Linked DNA regions of Homo sapiens. The protein of the gene in region 2 interacts with the protein of the main gene of each other region in a pairwise test. Each region holds a gene or a part of one and is shown on either strand. Other genes may lie near its edges.

What was found. Proteins that work in one complex are often made in the same cells at the same time.
Region 1: the proteins of SF1 (region 2) and PSMA3 interact in binary tests that used the Homo sapiens proteins (3 or more experiments, as listed by UniProt).

What each region holds. Positions count from the first base shown.
Region 1 is NC_000014.9:58,246,946-58,255,873, reverse strand, and holds part of PSMA3 (proteasome subunit alpha type-3), read right to left. Parts: intron 8,125-8,928; coding exon 8,042-8,124; intron 3,756-8,041; coding exon 3,632-3,755; intron 1-3,631. UniProt on the Homo sapiens protein: Component of the 20S core proteasome complex involved in the proteolytic degradation of most intracellular proteins. This complex plays numerous essential roles within the cell by associating with different regulatory particles.
Region 2 is NC_000011.10:64,774,368-64,783,249, forward strand, and holds the start of SF1 (splicing factor 1), read right to left. Parts: upstream 4,176-8,882; 5' UTR 4,026-4,175; coding exon 3,995-4,025; coding exon of another isoform or gene 3,620-3,994; intron 3,395-3,619; exon of another isoform or gene 3,132-3,394; intron 2,260-3,131; coding exon 2,131-2,259; intron 1-2,130. UniProt on the Homo sapiens protein: Necessary for the ATP-dependent first step of spliceosome assembly. Binds to the intron branch point sequence (BPS) 5'-UACUAAC-3' of the pre-mRNA. May act as transcription repressor.

The DNA of each region.
Region 1 (8,928 bases), on a different chromosome or scaffold from region 2:
ACAAAAACAAAAACAAAAACAGAATTGCAGTTACTATGTATGTGCCGAGAGGTCCTCAGGCACTGCAGTGAAATCACATGTTAGTGTGGCATATCTTTTTTTTTGAGATGGAGTTTTGCTCTTGTTGCCCAGGCTAGAGCACAGTGGTGCAATCGCGGCTCACCGCAACCTCCACCTCCCAGGTTCAAGGGATTCTCCTGCCTCAGCCTCCCGAGTAGCTGGGAGTACAGGCATGCGCCACCACGCCCGGCTAATTTTTGTGTTTTTAGTAGAGACAGGGTTTCTCCATGTTGGTCAGGCTGGTCTTGAACTTTCGACCTCAGGTGATCCGCCCGCCTTGGCCTCCGAAAGTGCTGGGATTACAGGTGTGAGCCACTGCACCTGGCCTAGTGTGGCACATTCTAAGTTTGGAGAAAAATGTCCAAGTAGTTCCGTTTGAACATTAGATCGTTTTACTACATTCCTTTCAATGCCACCACATCTTTGAGAAGCTTGGCTGTTAGTGGTTGCTGTGAAAAAAAGTAAGTACTGTGCAAAAATCAGTGTGGAACAGGAAATGACAGTGGCCACATCCAAATTTGGGAGGTTGTGCAGTGTATATACTAGAAATTTTGGTTGCTTAAAATAAAACATTTTAATTTTTAAATAAAAATATTTTTCACTATGTGTGTATTTAAAAAAAAAAAACGGCTACTAAGTTTTTAGGATGTAAACACTAAGTTCTTTGGATCTAAATACTTAATAAATGAAACCATTAGGTATTTTCGGCCTAGGGAAGCCATGAGAAAAACTACTGAGACACTTAAGGTACCATAAACCAACCAAGTTTTTGAAACCCTCTAGCCCAGGACAGTTACAGAATTTAAAAGTGGTATCACAATCTTTAATAGCCTTTTTTTCCTACGCTACCCAGTAATAGTAATAATGATAATTACTAAGAGATACTGAGCACTCATTACATGTTAAGCATTTTGCATAATAATTTTTAACCTCACAACAACTGTATGTGCCAAGTACTATTATCACTCTTGTTTTGCAGACAAGGAAACGCGTGTTTAGAATAGCTTCCCCAAGGTAACCCATGCCAGTAAGTTACATCACTTAAAGAATCTTCTGTTGCTTTAGAGAAAGCTTACTGTAAAGTCATATAATTCTCAAATCACTTGAAGATGACAACTGTGGAAGGAGGGAGGATATTAAGTCTTAATTTTCTCCAGCCCTCTTCAATGTCTAATGTTGACAGGGCACATTGGCTCATGCCTGTAATCTCAGCAACTCAAGAAGCTGAGGCGGGAGGATCGCTTGAGCCCAGGAGTTCAAGACCAGCCTGAGCAACACAGCAAGATCATATCTCTTAAAAAAACTAAAAAATTAGCCAGGTGTGATGGCACACTTGTAGTCACAGCTATTTGGGAGGCTGAGGCAGAAGAATCACTTGAGCCCAGGAGCGCAAGGCTGCAGTGAGCTATGATCATGCCACTGCACTCAAGCCTGGGCAACAGAGCAAGACCTCTGTGTGTGTGTACATACATATATATATGCATGCATAATTTTTTTCAAAATATTAACTTTTGCTAGTACATAAAAGAATACAAGATCACCTCCTACTAGCTAGGTTACAATGTAGCAAGTTTCATCAAAACATATCAGTTTCACTGGCAATAATAAATCTGTTCAGCATTATTCTTAGCAAACTAATACAAGAAGAGAAAACCAAAAACCACATGTTCTCTCTTATAAGTGGAAGCTAAATGATGAGAATTCATGGATACAAAGACAGGAACAACAGACAATGGGGCCTACTTGAGGGTGGAGGGTGGGAGGAGGAAGAGGATCAGAAAAAATAACTATTGGGTCCTAGGCTTAGTACCTGGGTGACGAGAAAAATCTGTACAACAACAACAACAAAAAAACAGTAAAAAGAAAATGTATATATACACAATGGAATACTATTCATCCTTTAAAAAGAATAAAATGCTAGGCTGGGCACGCTGGCTCACGCCTATAATCCCAGCACTTTGGGAGGCCAAGGCGGGTAGATCACTGGAGTTCAGGAGTCCGAGACCAGCCTGACCAACATGGTGAAACCCCGTCTCTACTAAAAATACAAAAATTAGCTGGGTGTGGCGGCGTATGTCTGTAATCCCAGCTACTTGAGAGTCTGAGGCAGGAGAATTGCTTGAACCCGGGAGGCAGAGGTTGCAGTGAGCTGAGATCGCGCCATTGCACTCCTTCCTGGATGACAGAGTGAGACTCCATCTCAAAAAATAAAATAAAATCCTGTCATTTGCAGCAAAATAAAAAAATCTGTTCAGGAGAAACATATTGTTGAGATAAAATAATCTTTGAAGAAGAAAAAAATTAGCTTTATGGTTTACTGGTTATACTTTACCAGTACTTTTTGTGTTTGTGTGTAACATTAAATCTCATTTAGATATAAGAAAGCTATCAGCTGAACGATGTGGGTCATATAAGGTGTCTTTTCATTTAGAAAGGGCTCTTGAGTAACATGCAGACCCAAGTTTGAATCCCAGCTTTTCTTTACTTGCTGTGCATCTGTTTTTTCACCTGTGAAAATGGCATTAGGCCGGGCGCAGTGGCTCACGCCTATAATCCCAGCACTTTGGGAGGCTGAGGCGGGCAGATGGATCACTTGAGGTCAGGAGTTCGAGACCAGCCTGGCCAACATGGTGAAACCCTGCCTTTACTAAAAATATAAAAATTAGCTGGGCATGGTAGTGGGCACCTGTAGTCCCAGCTACTTGGGAGGCTGAGGTAGGAGAATCGCTTGAACCCAGGAGGCAGAGGCTGCAATAAGCTGAGATGGCGCCACTGCACTCCGGCCTGGGTGACAGAGCCAGACTCTGTCTCAAACCAAAAAAAAAAAAAAAAGAAAATGACATTGATATAACCTTCACTGGGTTGTCAAGATTAAACAAGGTAATTTATGTAAAGAGCTCCCAGCATAAAACCTAATATAGAGATATTCTCCTTTCTTCCTTTCCTTTTCAGGTGGCAGGGTTAGAATCATTTGATTCTTTTTTTTTTTTTTCTTTCAGTAGTGGTTCTCACTAAGCCAAGTCTGCCATCTATGTAGGGTAACTTTAGTATATACCAGTCATGTATCTATGGCTTGGCTTGCAATTTAGTCACTCATAACTTAGATACCAGCTGCATGAATAACTTAATTTCAGTGATGCCCTATGAAACTATTATGGATGTGTTCACTTTTCCTTTTCATTAAACATCCTTTCCTGATGTTCCACCTTATATAAAGGTGTTCGCTATCTGATGGCATCTTTACTTTGACAGTGATCCCCACAAGAGATACAGAAAGCTAAAGATTCTTCACCTCTCAAGCATATACCTTCATTAGTAATGTGTGCTGCCAAGATCTCATTTCTACGCATACTCCCCAGCCCTCTCCCTCACCTGCTCTTCTTTCAGCAACTTGGTTTTTCCCCCATCACTAATAAGGTTATGAGAATGCTGCCTTTCTACTGGACAGTGAACTGGACAAATGCAGTAACTTGCTCTGATTACTTTTGTGACTGCACAGTGATCTATTCCAATCAGTTACTTCAAAAGAAATTGGACAAGACAAAAAGGAACATTTTAAACATGACCTTACCATTCCAACATGCCGATCAACATTAAAAAGTCTTTTGTTGGAACCTTCTTCATAAAGTTTAGAAAGGACTAATTTTTCTACCCCAAAGACAACACCATCTTTGCATCTGATTCCAATAGCTGTACTGAAACAAGGAGAAGAAAATCAGTTTTTTAACTGAAAATAAAAGAAACTTCATAAACTTAAGTTTAACAAAAAAACAAAATAAGTAACATTTAAGGCATGCCAAATACCTTAAAACATTTGAAAACCAGGAAGAGAAAACACACTAAAGTGTAATAAATACATTAAATCCATATAAATATCATGTGACCCTCCCTCCAGAATCTAGTACATCATTTGACTAAAAATATATTAATATGTAAGTATAAAAATGATGCTAACGAAACACAATATGGCTCAGTGTCTGGCTTATGATAATCATGTTATAAACAAATGTTGACATAAATTCATGTCCATTAAAAATGGTACATAACAGACATAAAAGGTTAGATACAAACTAAAAAGTTAACAGTGACTGCTCTGGGTAGAAGGATTATGATTTATTCTTCCTTTTGCTCATCTCTTTCTTCCAATTTTTCCATAATAAACATATTGCTTCTAATACGTATATAAAAATAAAATATATGTTCTGCTACAACTGTTTAAAATAAAAAGATCTTAAAATAACCTCTTAAGACCAGGCATGGTGGCTCACACCTGTAATCTCAGCACTTTGGGATGCTGAGGCAGGAGGATCTTTTAAGCCCAGGAGTCCAAGACGAGCCTGGGCAACATGGCGAAACCTGGCTTAGCCAGGCATGGTGGTACACGCCTGTAGTCCCAGCTACCTGGGAGGCTGAGGTGAGAGATTGCTTGAGCCCAGTTAGGTGGTGGCTGCAGTGAGCCAAGATTGCACCACTGCACACCAGTCTGTGCAACAGAGTGAGACCCTGTCTCAAACACACACACACACAACCTCAAGTAAAATGTGGAGAAATTACTTGTTGCCATTTCAAGATGAAAATGTGTTACACTTTATTCTTCTATTCCTTTTTGATAAAGGTAGTTCTGATCGGAAACAATAGAGACAAAATAAGCAATGCTTGATTGTACAGTTTTCTGGTAAAATTATCTCAACTTTCTCTTTCTTCTTTTTTTTAATTTTAAAGAAATGGAGTCTTGCCATGCTGCCCAAGATTGAATTGAAGTCTGAGGCTCAAGTAATCCTCTCACCTCAGCCTCAGTAGCTGGGACTACCGGCACAACTTCTCTGTTTTGGATAATAGCATCACCAAGCTCTACATCCTCCATGTTGAGCTTCTATTTACTATTAATTTTTTTCTTCAAAATTTCCTTCATGTCCACTTCTTTACAATAATTATACCAGCATTGGGATCCTTATAATTTCAGGCCTAGATTACTACACCATCTTTTCTACTTCTCTAATCCGTTTAATCTAAGACCAGCCTAATTCCTAGCTGTGTTTCATTTTGCCATAGTCAGAATCTAAAAAGGGATCCACAATCTAAAAAGCAGGGGAATTGTGTTATTCACAGGCCTCTTAAAATCTGATGAAACTATGGCATTTCCTCCCAGAAAAATGAACAACAGATGCACACAACAAATTTTCTAAGAATTTCTGACACTCCTTCCCCAACACTTTAGGTGTCTTCCATGGCTCCCCTTGCAAGTTTAAACTCCTAAGGGTCTGGCAGAACCCCCTGAGCATATTCAATTTCCTGTTATAAATTCTGTACTCTACTGGTTACCTCACTGTCAACCTTCAAAAACCTCATGTTCATTTTTGATTCCATGTCTTTGAGGTTATCCTGGATGCTAGAATACATTTCCTCTTCACTACTGCCTATTTAAATGAATTTCCCCAAAAGGTTTGCAAACTTAGTTGAACTCAAGCAGTACAGGTCAGAATGTAACCTCAGGACTTTGGAAGGCCCAAGTGAAAGGCTTGCCTGAGGCCAGGAGTTCAAGACCAGCCAGGCCAACATTTTGAAACTCTGTCCCTATTTTTTTTTTTTTTTTGGAGATGGAGTCTCGCTCTGTTGCCCCAGCTGGAGTACAGTGGCGTGATCTTGGCTCACTGCAACCTCCATCTCCCGGGTTCAAGTGATTCTCCTGTCTCAACCTCCCAAGTAGCTGGGATTACAGGCGCGCACTGCCATGCCCGGCTAATTTTTTGTATTTTCAGTAGAGACGGGATTTCACCATGTTGCCCAGGCTGGTCTCGAACTCCTGAGCTCAAGCAATACACCTGCCTCAGCCTCCCAAAGTGCTAGGATTACAGGCGTGGCTCACGCCCAGCAGGAAGCCTGTCTTAATTATCTCAACTCAACATCTTCCACACTGTTTAAAACATTCTTGAAAATCTGGAAATCTCTGAAATCCTTTCAGGCAGTCTTCGAGGTCAAAATTATTTTCATAAGAATTCAAAGACTTCGGCTGGGTGCGGTGGCTCACACCTATAATACCAGCACTTTGGGAAGCCTAAGCAGGCGGATCACTTGGGCTCAGGAGTTTGAGACCAGCCTGGGCCACATGGTGAAACCCTGTCTCTACAAAAAATTTGCCAGGCGTGGTGGCACATGCCTGTAGTCCCAACTACCTTGTGGGGCTGAGGGAGGAGAATAGCTCGAGACCAGGAGGTCGAGTCTGCAGTAAGCTGTAATCACACCACTGCACTCCAGCCTGGGTGACAAAGCGAGATCCTATGTCCTGCCCCCAAAAAAAGTTTTTTTTAAAAAAAAGGAATAATAAGCCAGGCGCAGTGACTCACACCTGTAATCCCATCACTTTGGGAGGCCAAGGCAGGAGGATTACTTGAGCCCAAAAGTTCAAGACCAGCCGAGGCAACATAGTGAGTGAGACCATGCCTCTTTTTTAAAATAAATAAACATTTTTTTTTAAAATAAGAAACTAGCATTTGTTCACTTTGGGTGTAGTATCAAAGGACAGGTTAATACATCTTTAAAAAGAAGAACTTTTAGGCCGGGCGCCGTGGCTCATGCCTGTAATCCCAGCACTTTGGGAGGCTGAGGCAGGCGGATCACCTGAGGTCAGGAGTTCGAGACCAGCCTGACCAACATGGAGAAACCCTGTCTCTACTAAAAATACAAAATTAGCGGGCCATGGTGGTGCATGTCTGTAATCCCAGCTACTTGGGAGGCTGAGAGAATTGCTTGAACCTGGGAGGCAGAGGTTGCGGTGAGCCAACATTGTGCCATTGCACTCCAGCCTGGGCAACAAGAGTGAAACTACGTCTCATTTTTAAAATCCTAGCTTTTTCTGAGACAGAGTCTCTGTTGCTTAGGCTGGAGTGCAGTGGTGCAATCTTGGCTCACTGCAACGTCCACCTGCCAGGTTCAAGTGATTCTCCTGCCTCAGCCTCCCAAGTAGCTGAAACTACGACGTGTGCCATCACACCCGGCTAATTTTTGTATTTTGTTATTTTTTAGTAGAGACAGGGTTTTACCATGTTGGCCAGGCTGGTCTCAAACTCCTGACCTCAGGTGATCCGCCCGCCTCAGCCTCCCAAAGTGCTGGGATTACAGGCGTGAGCCACCACGCCCGGCTGCATTTTTTCTTCATTCAGGAAAAAACACATTCGTTTTTAAGGTTTCAATTTTTTAAAGATATTTCCTCATATTTGCATAAATCTGACTTTTTAAAATCGTATTTAGGCTGGCCACAGTGACTCACGCCTATAATCCCAGCTCTTTGTAATCAACGAGAAATATAGGACTGGGGCTACTCTCTGGGAGTCCGAGGTGAGCGGATCACTTGAGGCCAGGGGTTTGAGACCAGCCTGGCCAACGTGGCAAAACCCCGTCTCTACTAAAAATGCAAAAATTATCCGGGCATGGTGGCACATGCCTGTAATCCCAGCTACTGGGGAGGCTGAGGCAAGAGAATCACTTGAACCCAGGAGGCGGAGGTTGCAGTGAGCCAAGATCGTGCCACTGCACTCTAGCCTAGGTGACAGAGTGAGACTCAGGTCTCAAAACAGAAACAGACATAGAAAAAATCTTTGCTGAATCGAACATGTGACTAATTGCATAAGACATTTAAAACACAAGATGTATGAGAAATAAAAAATAACAAGGTCACAAACCTAATGGCTGAGGAAGCCTATGATACAAATCAAGAATTTGAAAATGGAAAACAAAAAGATGATAATGAATGTGATTTATACACTCTGCAACATGGAAAATCTAAGTGGATAATCCTGGAATCAACGAGAAATATAGGACTGGGGCTCATGGAAAGCATCTGGCCTAGAAAGAGATCTGGAAATGAATAAATTGAGATTTGGGGACATATACTAATTTGTACCAAAGTAACATAACAAAGCCTAATCGCCAAAAATATATAAAATAAAAGGAGACATGTAATACCTGGTTAAATGTTTCTTACCTACTATTTTCCACAGCCTTCATAGCATATTCAACTTGAAAAACTCTTCCGTCAGGAGAGAATGTAGAGGCTGACAGGTCATACTTAAGGAGAAAAGGGCAACAGTAAGCTTGTATCTTTGGCAGTAATGACCATACAGTTTCTTCCCCTCTAAATGGCTGAAACATCAGGAACCTGTTATATCCCAACAAAGACCTTGCTTTCAAGAGAGGAAAGGGAAACTTGTCAGAGCAGCAACAGTAGCTAAGATAAAGCTATATACCTTCGATTTCAGCTATTGAAGAGTAATGGATACAGGTCCCAGGTGAAGTCAGAACACTTTTCACCCAGACTACAAAACTCATTTTTGAAAAAGATTAATATGGGGCAGTAGAACCAGCACTGGAGTTCGAACATTTAAATTTGTAACGATAACTCTGCCATTAACAAACTAAAAGACTTCAAACAAATCATTCGGCATTCACCAAGCAGTTAATGAGTATCTATTATGTTACTATACGGAATACAAAGGTATACTCATTCATTAAGTCCTTCAGTTTCACATCAGACATGAATCTAGGTGCTAGAGGTACAGCAGTAAATCAGAAAAGGCACTAAGATGAAAATAAAAGAGTAAAGCAATGAACTACTACAGACTACATCATCAGGGAAGGCCTTCTGGGCAGTTATATTTAGGCTGAGTCAAACCTAAATGACAAGGAGCTAGCCATTTAAGATATGAAGGAAAAGTCTTCTTGACATTTGGCACAAAGATCTTAGGGTAGAAATAAGGCTAGCACAGTCAAGAAACAGAAATAAGGTCACTGTGTCCCAAGCACTGTAAGCAGCAGAAAGAAGAGTAAACTGTGTTAGTGAGGTAGCTGAGGGCCAGATTATGTTGTGTCTTC
Region 2 (8,882 bases):
TGACGCCAGGGAAATGTTACACAGCTGATTTTCCAAGATAATGGGAACTGCAGAGCCAGAGCAGCTTTCTTCAACATGCGGAATAACCACCTGTTCCTTACCTTCGCAGCATCTGAGAATTTTCAGCAGGCATCTCCAATAAGGGCAAATGTTACTAGGTTGGGTTAAAACTGAGCTGGCTCCAAGATAGGATTAATGCGTGTCTAACCAAAGATTCCTTCTAACTTTAAATACATCCACAGGGCTATACCACACCCACACACTAAAACCCTGAAGAAATGAAAACCCATTATTATCGAAAGAAAATACTGGCCGGGCACAGTGGCTCACACCTGTAATCCCAGTACTTTGGGAGGCCAAGGCAGGCAGATCATGAGGACAAGAGATCGAGACCATCCTGGCCAACATGGTGAAACCCCGTCTCTACTAAAACTACAAAAAAAATTAGCTGGGCATGGTGGCGTGCGCCTGTAGTCCCAGCTACTTGGGAGGCTGAGGTGGGAGAATCACTTGAACCCGGGAGACGCAGGTTGCAGTGAGCCGAGATCGCACCACTACACTCCAGCCTGGCGACACAGCAAGACTCAGTCTCTCAAAAAAAAAAAAAAAAAGATATTGAGGGCATCCTGGACAAAGCAGTATGTACCGTGGGAGACAGAAAAGTAGTAAGACACATGGTTCCCCAAGCTCCTTTATGCCTAAAAAGTTCTGACTTTGCAGTTGAGTATTAAGCTCAACAACTCGAGGTGAAAGTCACCTTCACTGAGGGGAGAAGGTGAGTCTTCCTAGCTGACTATGGAGATGTGGGGCCTGATCTAAATAAAAAGGGTCATTCTCTTCTGTGGAGAACTACACCTCTCCTTTGATTCTATTTTGATTATAGCTATAAATAGTCCTTAGGGCCCAGTGAACTAACTAGCCCTCCACAAAAACAGAAATGGAGATATAAAGAATTTGTGCTCTTCCCATCTTCTAAGTATGCTTGTGTTCTTGGGATATCACTCCACTAGGGGCATTTCACAAGGATGTAAAGACCCAGACTAGTCTAATATGAGACACAATGGAATGGGTGGGAGTAGACAGGAACAGTAGGGGAAAGAACAAGTATTAGTAGTACTGTGAAAGGAGACAGACAATTCCAACGCCTCAAAATTCTCAGCAGTCTAAAAAACAGGAAATTAAGACCCTCAAAAGTAGTAACATGCTGGCCTTGAAGCTTTTTGGTTGTGAAGGCCACAGCCTCGTAGGTTTAGGAGGTCTTTGCCCGAATTTCCTCCAAAGGGGATGTTTATTTGGTTAGTAGGAAATGTTTATAAAGTGAACTTTTTTGAGACAGCTGCACAGGTATATAAAGATAAAACTTGCATTAAAAACTTTTTTTTCCAAAAAAGCAATTTTGAGGTTAATTTCAATTCCACTGTGGATAGTCATTAATTCTCAAAACCTCCCAGCAAATAAAACCTTTTTATCCTAGCACTTCATTCCATATCCATGCAATATCCCTTTCCCAGCAGAGTTCTTTAAAAGTAAATACAAGAGCCTTCATTTTAAGACAGCTCTCCATAGACCAAACCAGAAAAGATGTTGAAGGGAAGGTTAAACTCTTAAATTCAAGAAAATAAAAAGGGGTAAATTGTAAACACACTTTCAGAACCACTTTTTGTCATTTTTTTTTTTTCAGAAAGTACCTATAAAAAGTAAAAGACCACATTTTAGGGGGAGAAATATAAAATTATGGTGAAAGGCCACGCTGTGAAAAGTACTTGGTTTACAGTACCTGCGGTGTTCTCCACTGGGGCCTGTCCAGAGAGGCAGATGACACTCACCTCATCAACTGGCAATGAACAGCAGCTGAAAAGGGTGGCTGCTGGACTGGGGACTGTTCTTACTCCTAAGTGAAACCCTACCTTCCTGATACTCATGGAGAACACTGCAGTTACGAACAGACCAAAACAAGGAGCTGCAAATGCAGAACTCACTGGGCAAAAACTGACAGATGATACCAAAGTCGTGAAAGTATCTCATCTCAAAAAAGATAACTACAATCTCAAACTTTCAAAAAATGCAGATCTTGCTCAGAATAAATCGTAACAATCTCAAAGTGCATTTGGATGCAGAACGTATATTTACCTATATAAGCTCTTTCTTGTTCTCGAGTAAGTCCAGGGGGAATAACTGTAGGCATTCCTGGAATCACTGTCTTCTGTTCCATTGTGTCTTGGTTCCAGCGGCTCCTCTTCCGCTTCTTACTTGGGAAGTCTAAAAGGCAGAGACAAAATCCATCCGATGTAAATACAAGTAGTTATCAACAGACAGCTAAGGGTATTTAAGGTACTACACAGAAACTCAGCAGACTGTGAAGCTGAGAGCTTAACCTAAAACTTAAACATTAAAAAAACAGAAAACAAACCTCAGAGATCAGAGATTTAAAGCTTATGGCCACTACAAGGGTATGTGGTCCTTGGTCAGGCAAGTTAACATTTCACCTTCTTTTGTCTAGAAAAACTGTCAGATATATAAACGTGGTAATCTTAATGCATATGGCTGCAGAGAGTGTTAGATAGATACTACATCAACCATGAGTGCTCTGAAATCCCCAGGGGAGACAAAAATACACTGAAGAATCATAGATTTGTAAAGCAGTCCTGATGGGACTGGGGGCTCCACCCACCTCCACTCCCCTCACCAGTCACTTTTGTACGAGAGGCCGGACCACAACTAAACCTAGTTACACCCTACCAAGTGGGAAAAGCCCAATTCTTCAACAAGATCACCTTTGTCTTCATAAGTTTAGCCAAGATCAGCATTCAGTTTTCCTGGCCAGTTGGACACTGAGGGTCTGAACTCTTAAAAGGATCTATCAAAAATTCAACAACCTATACAATAGCAGCCAAGTTCTCCTTTCCCCGTACATAGGCAGAAACTCCCTACATTTGCCACAAAAGAGTCCTTCTATTTCCCAAGGGGTACAGGATCAGAGGGAAAAGCTTTTTAAAACAAAGCGACAGGGCAGCCGATCAGACTGAGATCTAAACATACTGAACAGATTTAAAAAAAAAAACAAACTAAAATTCTCTCCCCAAAAGAGACCAAGAAAGATCAGACCCAACCATCATCTGAAGCATGCCAACCTCTCCCGGATGAAAACCCTGCCTTGCTGTAGAAGCAGAGGAGCTATCCTTGGTACGGTTCCCATTCTGGTTCCTCAAGACCAGAAGGGAGTCGCTGCACGTCATCAGGTGAGGCTTTCACGCCCTGCTGGCATTCACAGCTAGCACCCCGTCCAGCGCTGAACACCCGCCACCCCTGTTCCCGACACCAGCGGACTGGACAGCAATAGTGGGCCCCCAGTCTATACAGTTGCGCCGCACAGCCCGGCCACCTCACTGCGTCTGCGCACAGAGCGCCTCCCGCCCGCCCAGCCCTCCCCCCACAGCGCGCGTGCGCACTCGAGGCCCTAGAACCAGGCCGCGCGCGCCCAGGGGCGCCTCCGCCCGGGCCTCCCCGTGCGCGCACGCGCGCCCCTGCCGCGTGCAGCCGCCGTCGCCGCCGCCGCGCGCCCCTCAGGCGGCCGGGCCCGTCCGCGCGACGCCTCTCGCGCTCTCTCGGCCCGACTCACCTCCTCCGCCGCCGGCCGGGCCCGGCTGCTGGTCCTTACGCGGCGGCTGGGGTGGCGGCGGCTGCGGCGGCGACACGCGCTGGTAGAGCGGCGGCGGAGGGGGCGGCTGCGGCGGCGGGTACGAGGCGCCGGGGGACGGTGGCGGTGGAGGCGGCGGCGGCTGCTGGGGAGGCGGAGGGGGCGGCGGCGGAGGCGGCGGAGGCAGCGCCGCGAAGGGGAAGGCCGCGGTCAGGGCCCCCATCGAGCCCACGGGCGGGGGCGGCGGCGGCCCGGGAGCCAGCAGCCCCGCCCCAGGCCCGGGTGCAGGCGGAGGGCCCGGCTCGAAGCCTCCTTTGGGCCCGGGGAGCGGGGGCAGCCCGGGGGGGCCCAGCTTACCCAACGGCGTGGCGTTCGCTCCGGTCGCCATGGCGCCCCCGGGGACAGGCACCGGCACCTGCTTTTCCTCTGCGGCGGCTTCTCCTTCGCAAGCCTCCCGGGGGGAGGGGACCCGAATGCGCTGCCGGAGCGCGCGGAGCCCGTCCTCTCACGCGGCGGGCGGCGGCGGCGCGAGACGCACAAAGAGGGAGGAGAGAGGGCACCGCGGGGGCGGGCCGGGGGCGGCGGGGCCGGGGCCTGGATTGGGCCGGGCCGAGGCGAAGGGTCGAAATCGGCGGCCTCCGATTGGCGGAGCCTCAGTCCTTCTTGATGCGCGCTGGGATTGGCCGAACCGTTAGGCCAAGCGAGGAAATGGCGGCGGAGTTCGGTGGGCTGGGAGGTGTCGCAGCGCGCACTTCATTTGTTACTGCGTGAACTGAGCTCCGAGTCCAGAAAGGAGGGGATGGGGTGGGGCGAACTCTATGACGGAGCGACGGCGAGCTCTCTCATTGGCTGCGGTGGTGGACTCAATCAATCTCGCCTGCGTTGTAGTGTCGCGGGATTGGCTGTCGCTGGTTCCAGCCTTTTTCTACTCCCCTCCCCCAGGGGGCAGTTTCTCCGGGATTAAGCGAGAGTCGCGGCGGAAAAGGCCCAGCCGGAACGAGATTTACGGCGGGGGAGTCCTGGAGCAGGAAGTGCGCATGCGTAGATGGAGCAAAACCGCCTCTCCACCCGTCTCCCTTCACCATCGACCCTTGGGTCCAGCAAGGAAGCCCTAAGTGACGTCAACCTTTGTTCCCATGGTAACGCAGAACCTTGGGGCGGGAGCAGGGGAGGGGCTGGCGCGCGCCGGAAAACCGGCTCAGTTGACGCTGCAGGTAAAAAGACTTCCTGTTTTTTTGGAAAAAAAAAAAAAAAAAAAAAGTGACCCAAAAAGCTACGAATAGAGACGACTTATCGAAGGATTTAAAACAGTATTTGAACTGATGCAACAACATATTAGATGAAAGGTAACAGAAGGTTGTCAGTTCAAAAATTACAAATACACACTTCTATTGGAATCTCCACGGAGTTCAGAGGATTTAATTAAATGATCTTAAAATCGTATAAAACAATAACTACGGCCGGGCGCGGTGGCTCACGCCTGTAATCCCAGCACTTTGACAGGCCGAGGCGGGCGAATCACAAGGTCAGAAGGTCGAGACCAGCCTGACCAACATGGCGAAACCCCGTCTCTACGAAAAATACAAAAATTAGTTGGGTGTAGTGGTGCACTCCTGCAATCCCAGCTTCCCAGGAGGATGAGGCAAGAGAATCGCTTGAACCCGGGAGGCGGAGGTTGCAGTGAGCCGAGATGGGGCCACTGCACTTCAGCCTGGGTGACAGAGCGAGACTGTCAAAAATAAAAATAAAAATAACTACTACAGTACTGGGAAAACTTTACAAGACGGAGCAGGAGCTTGCCTTTCCAGATGACAAACATAGTATATAAAACACAATAGGCCAGTGCCAAGGCACTGGGAGGCCAAGGCGGGGGGATCACCTGAGGTCAGGAGTTCGAGACCAACCTGACCAACACGGTGAAACCCCCGTCTCTACTAAAAGTACAAAAATTAGCCGAGCGTGGTGGCAGACGCCTATAATCCCAGCTTCTCAGGAGGCTGAGGCAGGAGAATTGCTTGAACCCAGGAGGCGGAGGTGTAGTGAGCTGAGATCGCACCACTGTACTCCAGCCTGGGCAACAGCATGAGACTCCGTCTCAAAAACAAAAAACCACAATAATAAAACAATATGATATTGTTGGTAGGAAAGACACATTAGTGCAACAGAATCCGGAAATACCACAAATGTAGTATTTTATTTCAATCAGGAAAAGATGATTTCGTTGATAAATGGCGTAGAATCTTAAATTTAAACAACAAAACATTTAGAATATAATTTAGGAGACTATAAGGGTATTCTAGGGGTTGAGAGACTGCAAAGACAGGAACCTCAAACTGTAAAAAGATATACTTGATTACCCCGAAAATTAACACTGATAAAAGTCAAGAGACAATGATAGATGAGGAAAAAATATTTGCCATACATGATAAAGAGCCAATACCTGTAATATACAAATACATCTTAAAAACTAATTAGAAAAAAGGCAAAAACAATAGAAAATGAGCAAAAAATAGGAATGGACATGTCTCAGAAGAACAAATCCAAATAGCCAAGAAATATGAAAGGGTGCACAACCCCTCTGCTGTGGTTTTTTAAAATAAATAGAAAAGATGTTGGAACCCCCACAACACTTGAAACCTGGAGAGAGAGGTGACTGTGATCTCAGCCATGTATGGTTATAATTTTTTCTGAGATAATAAATTAGACCTGCTTGTTTTTCTTGTTCTGTACAATTATTGGAGAGAATTAAACATGGGACAAAAACCTGCTGCCTTCTTAATGACCCTTCTTATAGATAACTTCCCTTTTGTTGTCCTGCTTTACTTAGACCAGATGACAGCAAACCCATGACTATTACACCCTCTGTAAAAAATGTTAAATGTATGCCTCCCAAAAAGAAACACTGCTTACAACCAAATTATTTATTATTATTATTTCAATTTGAGACAGAGTCTGGCTCTGTCGCCCAGGCTGGAGTGCAATGGCACAATCTCGGCTCACTGCACCCTCTGCCTCCCAGATTCAAGCGATTCTCCCACCTCAGCCTCCTGAGTAGCCGGGATTACAGCCACCTGCCATCATGCCCAGCTAATTGTTACATTTTTGTAAAGATGGAATTTCACCATGTTGGCCAGGCTGGTCTTGAACTCCTGACCTCAGGTGATCTGCCCGCCTCGGCCTCCCAAAGTGCTGGGATTACAGGAGTGGACCACTGCACTCGGCCTATAACCAAATTACTGTAAGTACGCACTGACCATATATGAAGAATGTAATCCTAAAACTCCTCTGCCTTTGTGTGTGTAAATGAAACCTTAACTTCTCTACTTCGAAACACTGACTCCATTCATTTGGAGTCGGTGTTTCCAGGTAGTCCACCCTCATGTTTTGTGCTTGAATAAACTATTGAAATTAGATTCTGACCCTTTTGATTACTTTAGGTGGACAGGTTTGAATGTGTCCCCCAAAGCTCATGTGTTAGAAACTTAATCTCCATCCAGGCGCGGTGGCTCCAACACTTTGGGAGGCCGAGGTGGGTGGATCACCTGAGGTCAGGAGTTCGAGACCAGCCTGGCCAACATGAATCTCCTGCCTCAGCCTCCCAAGTAGTTGGGATTACAGGTGCCGCCACTATGCCTGGCTAATTTTTTGTATTTTTAATAGAGACAGGGTTTCACCATGTTGGCCAGGCTGGTCTCGAACTCCTTACCTCAGGTGATCCACCCACCTTGGCCTCCCAAACTGCTGGGATTATAGGCGTGAGCCACCGTGCCCAGCCAGAAATCTCTATTCTTTATAAATTACCCAGACTGGGTGTGGTGGCTAATGCCTGTAATCCCAGCACTTTGAGAGTCTGAGGTGGGAGGATCTCTTGAGCTCAGAAGTTTGTGACCAGCCTGGGCAACATCTACTAAAAAAATAAAAAATAAAAAAAAAATGCTGGTCATGGTGGTCCATGTCTATAGTCCCAGCTACACAAGAGGCTGAAGCAGGAGGATTACTTGAGCCCAGGAGATCAAGGCTGCAATGAGCTATGATCACGCCACTGCAATCCAGCCTGAGCAACAGAGCAAGACCCTGTCTCAAATAAATAAATTACCCAGTCTCAGGGATTCTGTTATAGCAGTACCACCTTAGACTGTGCTGAGTTTGTGCGACTGAGACTAGCTAATTTATTTACCAGTATTTAGACACTGCCTATAAGGGAAATACAAATTAAGGTGATAATGAGGAATCTCAAAATAAATGAAAATAGCAGAACATAAATGTGCTAACACCTACTATCGTTAATCTTTTAGAAAGCATTCTGTTGTCTATTAAAATTGTTCCCCCTTTCAAAAAATAAAAAAATATGCACCTGTACTCACAGCTACTTGTGAAGCTGAGGTGGGAGGATCCCTTGAGCCCAGGAGGTAAAGGCAGAAGTGAGCTGTGATTGGGCGACAGAGTGAGACTCTGTCTCAAAAGAAAGAAAACATAAACCCTTTCGATCCAATATCCCACTCCTGGGAATCTGCCCCCAAACAAGCCATGTGATTATATAATGTTTTCAAAGTCTTCTGCATTTACTGCAGCATTGTTTGTAGTGGTAAAAATGGGCAAACAGAGTGAATTTCCATCAATATATGAACGACTGAATTGGAAAACCCATAACCTAGAATATTAGGCAGCTTTGAAAAGCTGTTAATTCATACCAACCAACCTAAAGTAACTACTGTTCTGTGTTAACAAAGAAATACATATGACATGGCTTTGTTTTTGTAACACAAACCCCATACAGATGTGTGCATGTTTGCATATGATTATCTGAGCATAACAAAGGCTACAGAAGGATACACAGCACATGCTCTATTGCAGAGTGAAATGGGCGGCTGGAAGTTGCCCAACACATCTTAAACATCCAACTTTTTTTTTTTTTTTTCTTATGAGATGGAGTCTTGCTCTGTCACCCAGACCAGAGTGCAGTGGCATGATCTTGGCTCACTGCAACCTCCTCCTCCTGGGTTCAAGCGATTCTCGTGACTCAGCCTCCAGAGTAGCTCGGATTACAGGCATGCGCCACCATGCTTGGCTAATTTTTGTATTTTTAGTAGAGACGGGGTTTCACCATGTTGGCCAGGCTGGTCTCAAACTCCTGATCTCAAGTGATTCGCCCGCCTCAGCCTCCCAAAGTGCTGGGATTACAGGCGTGAGCCACCAAACCCAGCCTAAAAATCCAAAGTTAAAAAAAAAATGCTTCATACGCTTA